Regions from separate parts of the Homo sapiens genome. Here region 1 is linked to region 2. Evidence: fine-mapped expression QTL. A gene starts in region 2. The other region holds a variant in brackets. All regions are shown on one strand. Distances are from middle to middle.

Region 1 (8,000 bases), 21 kb after region 2:
CTTCCCCTCCCTCCCTCTTTCCTCTGTGCTATTAGATTCTTCCAACACCTGGTCCCTGTCTCCTGCCCACAGCATCCAGCAGATTCAGTGCTGTTTGGACAAGATGAACTTCATCTACAAACAGTTCAAGAAGTCTAGGATGAGGCCAGGTGAGCCCGGGGAGGGCAGATGCCCCTTCTCTCTCCTCTGTCTCCCTTCTTTCGCCTTTCTTCCTTTTCACTGGTGCTACCAGTGGCCACTAACCTCCAGCTAAGTGGCCGCTAACCTCCAGCTGGTGGTTCTTGGAGGCCCACTAAGCGGATGGTTCTGTGCAGCTGCTCTAGGGGCAAGGCCCCTGTCTGCAAGCTGCCTGCAGGCCAGTGGGGGACATGAAACCTTTACATGCCTGCCTGTTGCCACATGAGAGACTTGGATCACATGGTTGGGGGATCCAGTGGGCCGGGACCTGGGTGCTGTAGGAGAGGTGGTCCTGGAAAGAGATCTCGCACCTTGGCAGGGCACTTTAAAGTATAGAATGTCACTATCCGTTGTGTCCTTGGGACACTGAGACAGTCAGGTTTTCCAGAAAAGGGGGGGTCAGGAGAAGTCCCATTTTGAGTCACTGGGTCAGGCATTTTGGCTGCTTGATCCATTAATCCTCACAAGGATGCTGTGGCAGGGGCAGCCCATTTACAGGCTCGGGGGTGGGAAGCTGCTTGTCCAAAGTGACTGCCATTGTGGGGTAGTGCAAGGGTGGGACCCAGGGAGGGCTGGTGAGGGGGTTGGAGGGAGCCTGCGGAGGCTCCAGTTGACTCCTCAGGTTGGGGAACTAACACACCAGGAACCAAACCTCCCCCTCCTCTCCCAGGCCCCAAGCATTTCCTAATCTGTAGGCTGAAGGTCTTGGGCTTTATTGCCAAATTCTCTTCTCTCCTTGGGATTATCTAAAAACCACTGTCCAATAGAAATATAATGCCAGACACGTATGTAATTCTAAGTCTTCTAGTAGCCAATTTTTAAAAAGTAGAAAGAAACAAGTGAAATTAATTTTAATGTGTTATTCAACCCAATATATCCAGTGTCATTTTAGCGTGTAATCAATATAAACAAAATCACTAAGGAAATACCTTATATTCTTTTTGTGTTATCTTCAAAATCCCACGTGTATATATACACATAAATATATAACTTATTTCCTTAGCAATTCTGTTTATATTGATTACATGCTAATATATATATTTGAGACAGGGCCTTTGTCACCCAGGCAGGAGTACAATGGCATGATCACTGCTCACTGTCGCCTCAACCTCCTGGGCTCAAGCCATCCTCCCATCTCAGGCTCCTGACTAGCTGGGACTACAGGATGCTTTCCCATCACTTCATTGTTTTATATTTCACATATATATATATAATTCATATATATATTATTCACATATATATATTATTCATATATATATTATTCACATATATATAACATTTATAACACATCTCTATTGGGAAACTAAATTTTATATATGTGTGTATATGTGTGTGTGTGTGTGTGTGTGTGTATATATATATATATATATATATATATATATACACACACACACATACATGGAGCTGTGTGCAGTGGCTCATGTCTGTAATCTCAGCACTTTGGAAAACTGAAGCGGGAGGATCACTTGGGCCCAGGAGTTCAAGACCAGCCTGGGCAACATAGCAAGACCCCGTCTCTACAAAAAATAAACAAAACTAGCTGGACGTGGGCATGCGCCTGTAGTCCTAACTACTTGGGAGGCTGAGGTGGGAGGATCACCTGAGCCTGGGAGCTGGGAGTTCGAGACTGCAGTGAGCTAAGATCACACCACTGCAGCACTCCAGCCAGGGCAAGAGCGAGACCCTGTCTCAAACAACAACAATAACAAAACCTCTAGGCATCATTACCCTCCCCATTTTATAGATGAGAAAACCAAGACACAGAAAGGTTAAGTAGCCCAAGTAATCTAGGTCCAGCTGCTTTTAACTATCCCATTTTACAGCCTCAAAGGAGTTTTACTTCTATTGGTCTTTAAGAGTCCTTTAATAAAATTAAAAATGAACCCCTAACTGTTAAAACCCAGCGTGTTGAAAGATACCATTTTTTAAAATGCCCGGTGGTCTTCAGGCTCTCTCGCATGAGCCTCACGGGACTCCCAAGTGGCACCTGTGATGGATAAGGAGACAGGCTCAGCGAAGTGAAATCACTCGCCTAGTGCCGCCTGCCAACAGGAGGAAGGGCTGAGGTTTGTCCCAGGTCTCTCGGACTGCACACATGCTCTTAGCTGGCCGAGTGCAGGGCCCAGGAGGGGGACTCTGCTATGAGAGGAGTGGGATGGGGAGGCCCTCGAAGTGAACCGCCATCATCATTTCATCTTGGGGCTGCCGCCACCCTGGAGGCCCATTCCTGCGAAGACCAGGAGGGGGCAGCATCTCCCTAGTGCATGAGCCTTAGGGCCCTTCAGGAGGCAGCCAAGGCCATGAAAGCTTCAGCCTTTCTGGCAAAAGTGGCTGGGCAGAGCGGGGAGGTAGAAGGTGGTGGCCTGATTTCTCCAGCTCGTTGCAGGTAGCGCCCATGAACATTCAGGGATGGGACCACCCAGCTGCAGGCATCAGTCACTCTGGGAGGGTGCTGGATAAGGGGCTATGGTTGACCGAGCCTCCTTCTAAGCCCACTTCATCCACCAACTCCCACCTGAAGCATCCCCCACGTCCCCACCCCGGCCCTGCACTGCAGGCTGCCTTCCCCTGGGGCCCTCACACAATTTCCCCATGGCTTCTTGAGGCCCTGGCTTTGTCCTAATCAGCTATTCCGGTGCTAGCTTCACTCCTCTGCCCCTCCTGCTCCGCTGGGCGGTGAGTTCCCGTGAAGCAGCACAGGCTGGGCCGTCTTCATCTTTTAACTGTCTCTCGACCTTTGCTGCACACTGTTTCGTTGACTGATTGAATAGGTGACATCTGTTCTGTCTGTTTCCTCCAGGGCTTGGCTACAACGAGGAGCAGATTCACAAGCTGGATAAGTGAGTGGCCTGTCCTCCGGCAGGTGGGTGGGCAGGAGGGTGGGTGTCCTCAGGGCAGAGCGATTCTCAACGCCAGAGGAGAGGCAGTGAAGGGCCCTGTCCCGGACTGCAGCTGAGCAGAGTTGGGGATAACAGGTTATCTGGGGCCAGGGGAGGGAGTATGCATAGCTTAGTTGGAGGGAGACTTCTCAGATGCAATCTTGAAGTAACTGGAT[T/G]TACTTCTGGTATGGACAAGACTGTTTGCAGGCTTTTTTTTTCTCTAGTTGTCCTCACTGATGCACCACTTACCACTTCCTGCTTCTGCCCTCTGCCTGAACCTTCCCTGCCTCCCCCCGCTCCTCTGTCTCCCATGTTTCCCGGACACACTCACGTCCAGGAGGCCCTCCCTGATTTAATGGTTATCTGGGAACTCACTCCCCCAGTTCTACAAGCACCCCGACCCCTTTTTGTCTCACACACACACGCACTCACACACCTTCTTTCCACGGCTGCCTCACTTTCCCTTCCCTTTCCTGAGGACTAAGCTTGAGCACATGTGTGTTCCCTGAGGACCCCCTGTGTGTCTCCCACGTCTCCCTGTTGATGTGGGCTTTGCTGGCCACTGCAACCTTCACAATCCAAGTGTGTGACCGTCCTTCCTCCTTTCCCAGAGACATAGCCCTGCTGTGGACGCAGGGCTTGGGCACTTACGACAAGGTGGTGACGGAGACTGACGGAGACTGAGGGATGGTGGGCTTGTGCATAGTGGTTCTGGCAGCTCATCTGCACCTTGGTTCTCTGTCGTTCTAGGGTGAATTTCAGTCATTTAGCCAAAAGACTCCTGCAGGTGTTCCAGGAGGAGTGCGTGCAGAAGTATCAAGCGTCCTTAGTCACACACGGCAAGAGGATGAGGTAACAGCCCCTCCTGAGCTCCTGGAGCCCAGGGCCTGGCCTGGCCCTTCTAGGCTTCAGAGGACCCAGGGCTTTGTGGAGCCCTGAGGCAGAGGGAGGAGTGAGTGAAGGGGTGTGAGCAGAGGAGTGGTTTTCTGTCCCTGGGTGGACCAGGCAGTTGGCTGGGAGATTTCTGTAGCTCAGCTTATTTACTCCTACAACACCTGCCCTATACAGTAGATATCATCACCCTATTTCCTAGGTGAGGAAACTGAGGCTCTGAGAACAGGTCTCCTCTGCACATCACATGGCTAGTAAGTGGCAGACCCAAGACTCGTATGTGGCTCTGCCTGCCTCTACAATCTAGATTCTTCAGGGCTTTTGAGGGGTAAAATCAAATCAAATCTGGATTCTTTCTACCGTTCCACCTGGTTATATTGAGAAGTCTCCTTTAGGAGAACACTAGGTGCCCCTGGGATAAGGACAGTGGCAGTGGCCCTTAAGTAGAACCTTCTGTCACACTGTCCCCTTCAGGAGTTTTGGGTTCCGCCTTCTCAGATCAGGCCCACTCTCCATCCCCTGCCTGTGTGAACACTGGCCCCTCCTGAGAAGAGAGGACAATTTCCCACGTGCTACCACATTCTGAGGCCTGTAGGACCTCACCTTGTTATGGGGCTGAGACCTTGGCACTCACCCGTCCTCATATCAGAATACCAATGCCTGCTTCTTCTACTCCAACCCACCACACATTCTGGTGTAATTGCTCTGGAGCAGGGCTTGGATGTCAGTGTAGTACAGCTTCTCCAGGTGATTCTAATGTGTGGCGAGGGCTGACCTCCAACCCCTGATTTAACAGCTCTGGGCCTTGGGGAAAATGTTCCTGTTCCTTCACTCCACTTAGAGATAGAAGAGAATTCACACTGGAAATGAGAGCGTGGGCAGTTCCCCACACTGAGAGCCCTGGTGTGGGCTATCCTCTGCCTCTCTGCAGCCTGACTGGTGCCACGCTCACCATAGGTGGCATGCGTCACCCAGCCCCAGCCACATGCATGTTGTTGGTGCTCCACACTACGGCTCTGAAGGGGGCCTCCCAGCCTCAGCCAGCTGTGTGCTTCTGCATTATTGCAGTGGGGCGGGCAAGCGTGGAGGGCACAGCTGGCAGGGCAGAGGCAGCGAGGGAGGCAAATACCCGGGACCCACCTGTGTCCATGTGTGGATCCGATGGCAGCTAGGCGAGCCCTGGGGAATGGGCTGAGTCCTGCTCTAATTCTAAGTCTCTGTGTGTTCTCTTGAGGGTGGTGCACGAGACCAGGAACCACCTGCGCCTGGTTGGCTGTTCTGTGGCTGCCTGTAACACAGAAGCCCAGGGGGTCCAGGAGAGTCTCAGCAAGGTGGGCATGGCAGAAGGATTCTAGGTGCTCTGGGGATGCAGGCTGGGGCGCTTGTTACCCATGTCTTCCCCTCCTCCAGCACTCCCCCTACCCAGCCACACATAAGCTGGCTACTAATTGCTGACCAAAGTATGGCTTCCCTGCAGCTCCTGGAAGAGCTATCTCACCAGCTCCTTCAGGACCGAGCAAAGGGGGCTCAGGCCTCGCCGCCTCCCATAGCTCCTTACCCCAGCCCTACACGAAAGGACCTGCTTCTCCAGTAAGTGCTGGGGAGAAAGCGGTTGTGTATCTGTGTGGAAGGGGGTTGCAGGGAGCAGAGTATGCTGAGGTTAGAGCCTGAGGGGTTTGGCGTCATGCCAGGCCTAGGAGGCAAGATTAAAGAGACTAGCTGGGTGCGGTGGCTCACACCTGTAATCCCAGCACTTTGAGAGGCCAAGGTGAGCGGATCAACTTGAGGCCAGAAGTTGGAGACCAACCTGCCAAACATGGTGAAACCCCATCTCTGGTAAAAATACAAAATTTAGCCGGGTGTGGTGGCAGGCACCTGTAATCTCAGCTACTTGGGAGGCTGAGGCATAAGAATTGCTTGAATCCAGGAGGCAGAGGTTGCAGTGAGCCAAGATTATGCCACTGCACTCCAGCCTGGGCAAAGGAGCAAGACTCCGTCTCAAATAAGCAAACAAAAAAGAATAAAGAGGCTTCTTTGGTGGGGCTGCAGAGGAGGGTGGGCCTCCCAGGAAAAGGGTCTGGGCAGGGCAACTTCCAGCCTCAGCCGCCTCTCCTGCCTCTGCCTTGGGCAGCATGCAAGAGCTCTGCGAGGGGATGAAGCTGCTGGCATCTGACCTCCTGGACAACAACCGCATCATCGAACGGTAAGGAGCTTTCACCTTGTGTAGGTCAGGGCCGGGTCTTCAAGCTACCCTTGCCTGGGGGTGGTGAAGAGTCCCCAAGCCTGCCCATGCAGGTTTGATGACACGTGTCCATTTTCGAAGAAGCCCTGTTGAAGCTTAGGCATTTTCCACAAATGAGTTGACATCCTCAGGAGGTGTAGGGTTCACTTACAGCCTTTAAAATGTGAGCCTCCATGCTGTCAGGGAGATGGGGGCCTGGAGGCATGGGGTTTGTGCCTGTGTCCAGCTCTGCACTCCATATGTACTCTGTGCTCAAGCTGCCCCAGATGCCTCCTTGAATCACAGCCATCCTCAGGATAGGTGCTGTTTTCATCCCCATGTGCTACCCCAGGAAGCCACAGCGCAGACACCTTGGATACGATGCCCAAGGCCGGTGTTTCTCTGGCCTTGTGGGGCTCCCGTCCCTCCTGCCAATGCTCATGGGCCAGCCCGGGGCTGCAGGATCATCTCCTGATTTGACTCCCCTCCTTGGGGTGCTGAGGGGTCATGAGAGGTTGGTGTGGGAACGCAACAGGGCTCCGACTCTGAGATTGAGATTTTGCATACCAGTAAAAGTTCTTTCTTTTTTTTTTTTTTTTTTTTTTTTTTTTTGAGACGGAGTCTCACTCTGTCACCCAGGCTGGAGTGCAGTGGTACTGTGTCGGCTCACTGCAACCTCCATCTCCTGGGTTCAAGCAATTCTCCTGCCTCAGCCTCCTGAGTAGCCAGGATTACAGGTGTCCACCACCACACGCAGTTAATTTTTATATTTTTAGTAGAGACAGGGTTTCACCATCTTGGCCAGGCTGGTCTCAAACTCCTGGTCTCAGATGATCTGCCTGCCTTGGCCTCCCAAAGTGCTGGGATTACAGACATGAACCACTGCGCCCGGCTACGTACCAGTATAGTTCTAAAAGAAAACTCGAGAACAACAGAGTTACCAGCTGCTCACATAACCAAGTAAGCACATTTGAAGTAAAAAAAAAAAAAAAAAAAAGCCCTGTCATCTAGTAACCCTACTTTATAAAACACATTTTACCACCAAAGAGAGATAACCTCAGGATAAAGGATGGTCCTTGCTTGCCCTGAAGGCCAGCGGCCCTGTTTATATACATGTACACACGTGCACGCATCTCCCACTCCTGCCTGTCATCCTCGTGTCTGTCATTTTCCTGTCTGAGAACCAATGGCAGGGTAGAGTCAGCAGAGGTTCCTACAGGATTTCAATCCTGACCCTGCTTTTTACCAACTGCGTGACCCTGGGAGGTGTGTTCAGCTTTGAGCTTCAGTTCCCTCCCCTGTGAAACAGGAGTAATAATTTCTACCTCATGGTGTTGACATAGGGATTTAAAAAAATGAGATATGCAAGGTGCTTGCGCATAGGGGGGTGTGGAGGGAAGGGCTCACTAAATGTTACTTCTTCCCCAGAGGCCACTCCAGTCTCACACTAGAATTGGGGCCAGGAGGTAGGGAAACCAGGAGCAGAGCTTGTGGTTTGTCCCCAGAGTTTCAGAGGGTCCTTGGGTAAGGGAGGAATCTCCTCCCTGTCCTGTTCCAGCAAGAGAACTCATCCTCTTAAACACCCACAAAGAGGACATTTGACAGCTTCTTGGAAGGATTTTCCAAAACAGCCCTCTTGGTCAGGAAGTTCTAATTTTAGTGCCAACAAAAATTGCTCTTGCTGTGATATGTCATCTATTTGCAGATAGCTCAAAACTTTATTTTAGTGAATTTTCACTTCCTTATTCAGAGCTGTAGCCAAAGAGCCAAATGAATCCATTTAAACTCCTTTCCCCTCCTAAACCTTGGCTACACACTGGAATCACCAGGGG
Region 2 (8,453 bases):
TGATCTGGCAAGGCTGATATGACTGGTAGACATCTAAGTGGAAATATCAGGTAGACCCTTGGATGTATGAATTTGGAGTTCTGGGGGTAGATAATACCTGAAAACGTATTAGGAGCTATTACATTATAGATGTATTCAAACAGAGATTCCCAGGAAGAGCGTGGAGATGGAAAAAAGAGAAGGTCCCGATCATTAGAAATGCAGCAGAGGGGGAGGGCGCAGTGGCTCACACCTATAATCCAGCACTTTGGGAGTCCAAGGCGGTGGATCACCTGAGGTCGAGAATTCGGTACCAGCCTGACCAACATGGAGAAACCCCGCCTCTACTAAAAATACAAAAAAAAAAAAAAGTATCTGGGCGTGGTGGCACATGCATGTAATCCCAGCTACTCAGGAGGTTGAGGCAGGAGAATCGCTTGAACTCGGGAGGTGGAGGTTGCAGTGAGCCAAGATCACGCCATTGCCCCCCAGCCTGGGCAACAAGAGTGAAACTGTCTCAAAAAAAAGAAAGAAAAGAAAAAAAAAAAGAAATGCATCAGAGGAAGGGGGCCAGCAAAGAAGGCAGAATGAGCAAGTGGCAATGAGGTAGATGGCTGGGAAAGCACAGGGTCACAGACAGCAGGAGAGGACAATGCTTCAACAAAGCAGGGAATCTGCTGTTGAATGCCAATGGGGTAAGGTGAGGGTGGCATAGAAAGGGAATCATTGGACAAGAGCATTTTCAGCAGAGGGGGAATGAGTCCAACTGGAGTGGGTTAGGTGGCAAATGGGAAGGGAAGAGGCAGTAACTTGACAACTCGTTGAATGGGGAGCATCGAGAGACAAGGGTAAGATGGGCAGTGCAGAGGTGCATTTGTTGGTGGGGTGGGCAGGATGCAGTAGAACGGGAAGAATGTGCAGGAGAGGAGAGGGTGAGCTGCAGGGTACAAGCGGGAGGGTTGGCCATGGCCACTAGAAGAGGCTCAAGAAGAGGCACTTCCTGCTGTCGCGTGGGAGGGAAGGCAGGTGAGTACAGACACAGGGCAGGCAGTGGATGTGGGGGAGGAAATGAGGGGGTTCCCTTCTGATTGCTTCTTTTATCTAAGCGAAGTTTAAGGCAAGGTCCTTAGCTGACAGTGTAGGAGGGAACAGTGCAGAGGAGGTTTGAAGAGTGAAGACAATGAGAGAAACACTTGCTTTTCCTCGAAGAGAGACGACGCTGGCACCGGCGCCGATTTCCTTCAGTGGCCTGGATGCTGCCTCACAGCTTGTCCCACTGCTTGGGGCCATAGCAGCAAGATTGGCTGCAGTGTTTGTCCCTCCTTCTGCACCCAAAGCTCCTAGCCAGAGCTGACCCCTGAAGGTGACAAAGAGCTGGGCTCTGAGACCTCGTCCCTCAGCCCTTTGCCCTTGTGACTGAGCACAGCAAAAACGTATGGCCTGGCAATGCCCCCCAGCCTCTTCCATATGCACCCCAACCAGCACCCGAGTCCTTTCCCCTCCCCTTTAAGGCACTGGGCCGGCGAGTCAGTTGTGAAAAACTGGCTCAGGCCCCTTAGAGGTGGAAAAAGAAATTAATATCTTTTCAGAGCAGACCAGGTGCCAGGAGCTTCATCTCATTTTACTTTCAAACCAGCCCTATGAGAAACGTCGAGTGACGTGCTAGGGTCATCCACAGTAGGTGGTAAAATCTGAACTCAAACCTCCATGGCAATGGAGCTAGCCCCTGCCCTTCTTACTATACTTTCAGCCTCTTTGTAGAAGTCACATGAGATTTTCTTTCTGACAGCTGCTGTCAAGGGCCGCCCTCTTCCACCTCTGGTCCTTGCACTACCCTTGGATTGCCACTTCTATTTCTAGGACTCCTCAGAGCCACTTGGGAACACGTGGTGGGGACTCTTACAGACTTCCTCTTCCCTTCTGGAGCCCGCCAGCCCCCTGCACCTTCTCGGATGCAACCGGCTGTGCTGCCCGGCTGGGGCACAGGCAAGACATTGCTTCACTGTGTCCACACAGAGGATGTGACCTCACAGAGGATGCGCAAGGAAACTTGATCTGTCACGGCACATGGCTCCAGGCCACCTCTACCTCTCTCCCTTTTCACAGCCTCAGTCCGGCTCTTCTCATGCTTCTGTGCCTCTGCACATGTGCCCACAGCCTGGAATTCCATTCCCCCAGCCCCCTCTCCTCTGCCCAACTCCCCTTTTCCTAAAGTCTGGCCAAGCAACCCTTCTGGAAAGCCCTTCTTGATCACCTTCCTCCCCGCTGCGCGTCTGCCACTCATAGCATCTGCCATGCCATCCTGGACCTCCAGGCTCCTGATGGGATGCCCACCTTTACATCCTGAGCACACAGTGCCTGCCTCATAGCAGGTGCTAGACACATGGTAGTTTCCTTTGAATGTGCTAAATATGCTGGGAAAGAGATTGACGGAGAGAGGAAAGTAAGAGTGCTGGTGAGGACCCAGCAGGTTCATCAGGGAAAAAAGTGGGTAAACATTACGGATTGTCTAAGTTATGTAGCAAACCTCGGTGCCCTAAAGCAACAAAGGCTGATTTCTCACCAAAGCCAATGTCCCTTGTGGACCAGCAGGGGAACTCTGCTCAGGACAGTCACTCAAGGACCCAGACTAACAGAATCACACTGCCAGAAAGCAGAGTTCTGGGAGGGTCTTGCATCAGGAAATAAATGCTTTGGTGGGGAACTCACATGCTCCCCCTATCACAAAGTAACTAGGATGTGCAGTTCTCCCATGTGCCAGGCAGGCAGAAACCTGGGAAGACTAGGCTGGGTGCAGTGGCTCACGCCTGTAATCCCGGCACTTTGGGAGACTGAGGCAGGTGGATCAGGAGGTTGGGAGATCTAGACCAACCTGCTCAATCCACCTCACCAACCACACAGTGAAACCCCATCTCTACTAAAAATACAAAAAATTAGCCACTGGCTCACGCCTGTAATCCCGGCACTTTGGGAGGCTGAGGCAGGTGGATCAGGAGGTTGGGAGATCAAGTCCAACCTGTTCAATCCACCTCACCAACCACACAGTGAAACCCCATCTCTACTAAAAATACAAAAAGTTAGCCGGGCATGGTGGTGCATGCCTGTAGTCCCAGATACTTGGGAGGCTGAGGCAGAAGAATCACTTGAACCCAGGAGGTGGAGGTTGCAGTGAGCTAACATCATGCCACTGCACTCCAGCCTGGGTGACAGAGTGAGACTCCATCTCAAAAAAAAAAAGCAAGCTGGGAAGACTGGGTGGAACATGAGGATCTCAGGCACTCAGGCACATTCCTCCTGGTCCTGATGTGAGAAGTTGCAGCAACTCCTCCAGCTGGAGGTGTTATGGGGAGTTCTCTTTATCTGAGCACTAGGCAGTTCTCAGCTCTGCTCCTGTTCTAGTGTCACTGTGGGAGGGGTGGGGCTGGCGGAGGAAACCACCAGGTGTGGCCATGGGAAAGTCCCTCCAACATTCTATAGAAACATGGAATTTCCTGGTTTTAACCATTTCATATCCAACTGCCATCTCTGAGCTGACCAGAGCAGGACAGACCCCTCCAGCCTCCTAGGACATTTGATGTGGGGCATCGAGTCCTGGCTGGGAAGTTGGCACCTGGGTGCCAGCCCCAGCAGTCTCTGAAGAGCATGGGTAAATTACTGAAGTGTGTGGGCCTCCATGCCTTCAATGCCTTTCTGTAAAATGCTTTCCAAGCTCCCAAACAATTCCAAATATATCCATGTCATCCAATCAACCCACAGAGTAGCTGTTACTCTGCGGGTGAGTGAGCTGGCTGGGAGGGGCTGCATGCTGTGTGCTCAGGTCACACTGGAAGGCATCAGCTGGGTCCCCGCGCTTGCTCTCGGACCTCTGCAGGCCTCCTGGGAAGGTGACTCAGATCCAACTTCTAGGACTGGATCGGCATAGCTCCCACACTTCCTTGGGGTTCCTGGGTGTGGGAGCATGGACTTCCCAGGCAGCTTTCCACTTAGTTAACTTGCCCAACCTGCTCTGTTGACTCTGGGAAGAGCCCTGAACTTCCCTGCTCCAGTGAACTGTGGGAGATGCCAAAACAGCACCCAGCTGCCCATCAAGATTACCAGAAGGGCCCCAGTTCCTGGCTTCTCTGTGGCTCACACTCTGGTCCTATTGCCTACCCTTGGGAACTCAGAGCATCCTCTTTCTCTTTTCTGCTGAGCTGGTGGCTGCACCGAGTTGCCTCTGTCTCTTTAAGAGAGAAAGAGAGAGCGAGAGACGGAAATCAGGAAGTGCGAGAGAGCTGAGAGCCAGGACTCAGTGCTGAGCTTGGTGTCCCACCGCCACAAGGAGGCAGGGAAGAAACCCACTAGTCCCAGCTCCTGGGGTGGCACAGACATTGCAACTGGCCCTGCCTGTGGGTCCTAGGGGCCCTTGGCTACCAGGAGGCTAAGAACACTGCTCATGAATGACAGTGAGCCCTGAAAGCTCTGGGGGTGTCACCCAGTCCCACAAGCCTGCATCCCCTGCAGTGGAGATGGGGTGAGTGTGCAGCGTGCGGAGGGGGGTGGGGGTGGAATGAGGGGCCAGACAAGGGGCAGCTGCAGGGCAGCTCAGCCGGGTGCAGGGGTGTGGGCTTGTTGGCAGCGGTGCTCTCACATAGAGCGTTGTGTGTGGCATGGAGGTGAGCCACCACGGGCCAACCACAAGCCCTCCCTGGGCTCTGCTTACCAACACCCAAAGCCAGCGATCAGCACCCAGCGCCTGCCCTCACCTTTCCCGGGGTCTTTCTCCCTGGCCGGAGTCTCAGGAGTAGGAGACGCTGGGAAAGGCTCCCTGAACAGTTTGGGAATAGAGCTGGAAACCCCCAGCCCAGCCCTGTGGGGGAAGGTGACAAACAGGAAAGGGTTAAAGGGCTAGGGCCGGCGGCCTTTGATGGAGGCTGAGAAGCAACTGCACTGAGGGGCGCCTCTCATCCGCCCTCCTCTTTCCGGTGTAGCTCAGCTCCTGGACGTGCCACAGACAGAAAGCATAACATACACTCGCCAGGAAGAGCCTTTGCCTGACTCAGGGCAGCTCAGAGTGTGGGGTAAGTGCACTTGGCCACAGCAGAGCCCTGAGGAGGGAGGGGAGGGGAGAGGTGGGTGGGTGGTGTCTCACATGCTTCACTGTCCACTGCTCATTCATCCAACCACTGGCTGAGGGCCACTGAGCCCTTCTTTGCACCAGGTGCTTGGGGTGGTGGGGGGAGGATCTGCAGAGCGTGCAGAGTTAAGCCAGATGTGCCACAACCAGAGCTCCCGGGCACAGAATCCAGGGGCACACCGCTTGTCTGGGGGTCTGCGCTTTGCACCTCACTGCCTATTATCCCAGAGTCCTGAGCTGTTCCTTGCCCCAGTATCAGAGCCCTTGGCCTTGATTTCAGCCTGCTGTGCTCCAACCCCAGCCCCAGCCCCCAGACCTGCTGGCTGCCTCCAGCCTCAGCGGGGAAAACCAGACCCACTCATTCATGCTGAGCTACTGTGTTGTCTTCAGGAAGCCTCTCAGTACCTCAGTTGCTTCTGTGTAATGTCCGCTCCTACCTGATCTGAAACTAGGAGTTGACCACCGATCTCTTCAAGGGGCCTCTGGCTCAATGAAATGACATTATCAAGGATTTGCATTTTTAAAAAAGATTACACAGAGAAAAAGTTCAGAGCGAAGGAACATAGGATTCCAGGCATGGCAACCCTCAGTTTGAGAACCTGTAAGATGTTAGAACACGAAGATGCCTTTTCTAGTCTAGCGTTATTTAAAAGTATTTAAGTGGCCAGGCATGGTGGCTCACACCTGTAATCCCAGCAATTTTTTGGGGAAGCCCATGTGGCCGGATTGCCTGAGCTCAGGAGTTCAAGACCAGCCTGGGCAACATGGCAAAAACCCATCTCTACTAAAAATACAAAAGACAGCCAGGTGTGGTGGTGCACACCTATGGTCCTAAGCTCCTCAGGAGGCTGAGTTGGGAGGATTGCTTGAGCCCAGGGGGTGGAGGTTGCAGTGAGTCATGATTGTACCACTGCACCCCAGCCTGGATGACAGAGTGAGACCTTACGTCAAAATAAAAAAAAGAAAAAGGAAAAAGAAAGTATTTAAAGGATGGTGGCCCTTCTAATGCTTCTGTCCCCAGGTATCCCAAAAAGGCCAGCACTGGCCTTATTTTTCAAAGAGAAATTGAGTTTAACTTCTGAGGATACACTTTCTGGTACTAATTGCTTTAGGAGAACTAGGCTTTGGGGAAAAGATGAGGACAAAGATGGGAAACAGAGTTGTAGGGGGTTTCAGATTCTCCCAATGGCTGAATGATGAATTTTGCCTCCCCTATACCCTGCTCTCACACACACACCCACACCCTTCTCCCCAACGCCCTACACACATACACACACACACACTCTCACACACACACACACACACACACACTCTGAAGCAGCCCCATCTCTCTTGGAGCAGTACTGGCCCGGCTGTCAGCTCACAGCAGCAGGAAGTGGTGGGCCTGGCAGGCAGGCCAGCGGGGGCTGGGGGAGTGGCTCTGGACTCATGTTGCAATCCTGGAGATTTGTGGTGGTGTGGGAGATGCTCCCTGACCCTGGGCCCTTCCTCCTATACTGTTTCTGTTTCCTGGGACAATCTCAAGCCTGGATGCCAAAACCCCAGAATCTTCAGTGCTGGGGAGAGGTGGTAGAGACAAGAGGTTTGTCTCTGCAGAATGACCTGCCTCAGGAGGGGCTTCAAGGGAACGTGGGGAGCCAGGACAGGCAGCAGGTGGAACAGGTGCCGGCTGTGGGCTGAGGGCTCAGTGGGGGCCCTCTTGTTGTGCTGTGCGTCCTTTTGGGGAAGTTACTTAACCTTTCTGTGCTTCACACTTCCCCCGCTCCCTTGCTTGTGGAATGGCCACATGGAGCCCTTCTTAGGGTAGCCTTGGGGCACAGTTACAGGTCAGGCCACCAGCGGCCACCCTGTGCCAGGAATGGAATCCTGGGCCCCCAGCATGCTCTTTCTCTAGGCAGAAGGTGACCAGCCAGCTCAGGGCAGGAGATGCAGAGCACAGCCAATTACCTGTGGCACACAGATGACCTGCTGGGGCAGGGGGCCACTGCCAGTGTGTACAAGGCCCGCAACAAGGTAGGAAGCAACCCTGGCCAGGCCCTGTCCAGCCCAGCCTTGGCCCCCTCATGCCTCAGAAGCTGGCCCAGTCAGCCCCCAGTGGGCATTGAGGGTGGTGGGACAGGGACCTCTGGATGTTGTGTAGCACACTCATACTGTGGGTTTGAGCAGAGGCATAGGGAGCTGAAAACGGCTCCTTGAGAGGATGCCTCTGTCGGGCACGAGTTGGAGCAAGAGAACTGTGAAGTAACAAGGCAAACATCCGAGGAAGGTAACAGCAAATGGAATCTAGGAATAGCAGAGTGGGGAATTAGGCCTTGTTTGGATTTATCCTGCGAGAATGTATGAGATGATATCCACTCTGTCTTATTCAAGAGTGGTAGCCGGCCGGGCACGGTGGCTTATGCCTGTAATCCCAGCACTTTGGGAGGCCGAGGTGGGCAGATCACGAGGTCAGGAGATCGAGACCATCCTGGTCAAGATGGTGAAACCCTGTCTCTACTAAAAATACAAAAATTAGCTGGGCATGGTGGCGTGCACCTGTAATCCCAGCTACTCAGGAGGCTGAGGCAGAGAATCGCTTGAACCTGGGAGGCAGAGGTTGCAGTGAGCTGAGATCTTGACACTGCACTCCAGCCTGGGTGACAGAGCGAGGCTCCGTCTCAAAAAAAAAAAAAAAAAAAAAAAAGAATTGGAGCCATACAGACCAGGTTCCAATCCCTTCCCTGCTGCTAACCCCAGGGAGTGTTAGCTGCCCTGTGATGATTGTCAATAGCAATTGTAATAATGACAACAAGCCATCCCCTGCAGAAGATCAGAGTGTCAGGATCTTGTCACCTCCCAGTGCTGGACTCTCTACCCCTTGAGAGGGAAAGGCGGTGCGGATGGGAGCCCCCATCCAACCAGGCTAATCTCTGGGGTTGGGCTGGCCGGAGAGGCTGAATGGAGGCCCAGGAGAGGGTGGCTGCTCCCCTGTGGGAGTGGGACATGTGCTAATCCCATGCTGTCTCCCACTGCTCCCTCCCCAATGGCAGAAATCCGGAGAGCTGGTTGCTGTGAAGGTCTTCAACACTACCAGCTACCTGCGGCCCCGCGAGGTGCAGGTGAGGGAGTTTGAGGTCCTGCGGAAGCTGAACCACCAGAACATTGTCAAGCTCTTTGCGGTGGAGGAGACGGTAGGTCCGGTGCTTGGTCAGAGAATGGTCTTGTCCTTGACCCTTATGGTCTGGGGAGAATCAGGCCACATGATAACAGAGATTTGGTCCCATGCTCATCAGCAGGTCAGAGACAGCAGGCAAATTGCAGAAGGGAGCAAAGGGGGCAAGGGGGTGGGGGCGGTGCACTGGAAAGGAACGATGGACAG

Evidence for each region. PIP is the estimated chance that this variant, and not a neighbour inherited with it, causes the effect.
Region 1: its variant is fine-mapped to the expression of IKBKE in monocytes (Fairfax 2014, PIP 0.95).

Annotation. Positions count from the first base shown.
Region 1 is chr1:206,487,842-206,495,841 of GRCh38, forward strand. IKBKE (inhibitor of nuclear factor kappa B kinase subunit epsilon) reads left to right here. Exons shown (of 22, transcript NM_014002.4): 16 at 73-149; 17 at 2,978-3,017; 18 at 3,807-3,908; 19 at 5,182-5,278; 20 at 5,425-5,537; 21 at 6,079-6,150. IKBKE-AS1 (IKBKE antisense RNA 1) reads right to left here. Exons shown (of 2, transcript NR_172918.1): 2 at 3,275-5,235. Among named protein-coding and RNA genes, the nearest start is that of IKBKE-AS1, 5.9 kb to the right of the region's middle. The variant T/G (reference allele first, on the strand shown) is at 3,233.
Region 2 is chr1:206,466,207-206,474,659 of GRCh38, forward strand. It overlaps IKBKE (inhibitor of nuclear factor kappa B kinase subunit epsilon), which reads left to right and starts at 4,270. Exons shown (of 22, transcript NM_014002.4): 1 at 4,270-4,492; 2 at 4,950-5,039; 3 at 6,990-7,108; 4 at 8,125-8,265. The coding sequence starts at 7,022. RefSeq lists enhancers at 780-1,641, 1,642-2,505, 3,180-3,817, 3,337-3,646, 6,787-6,846 and 1 more.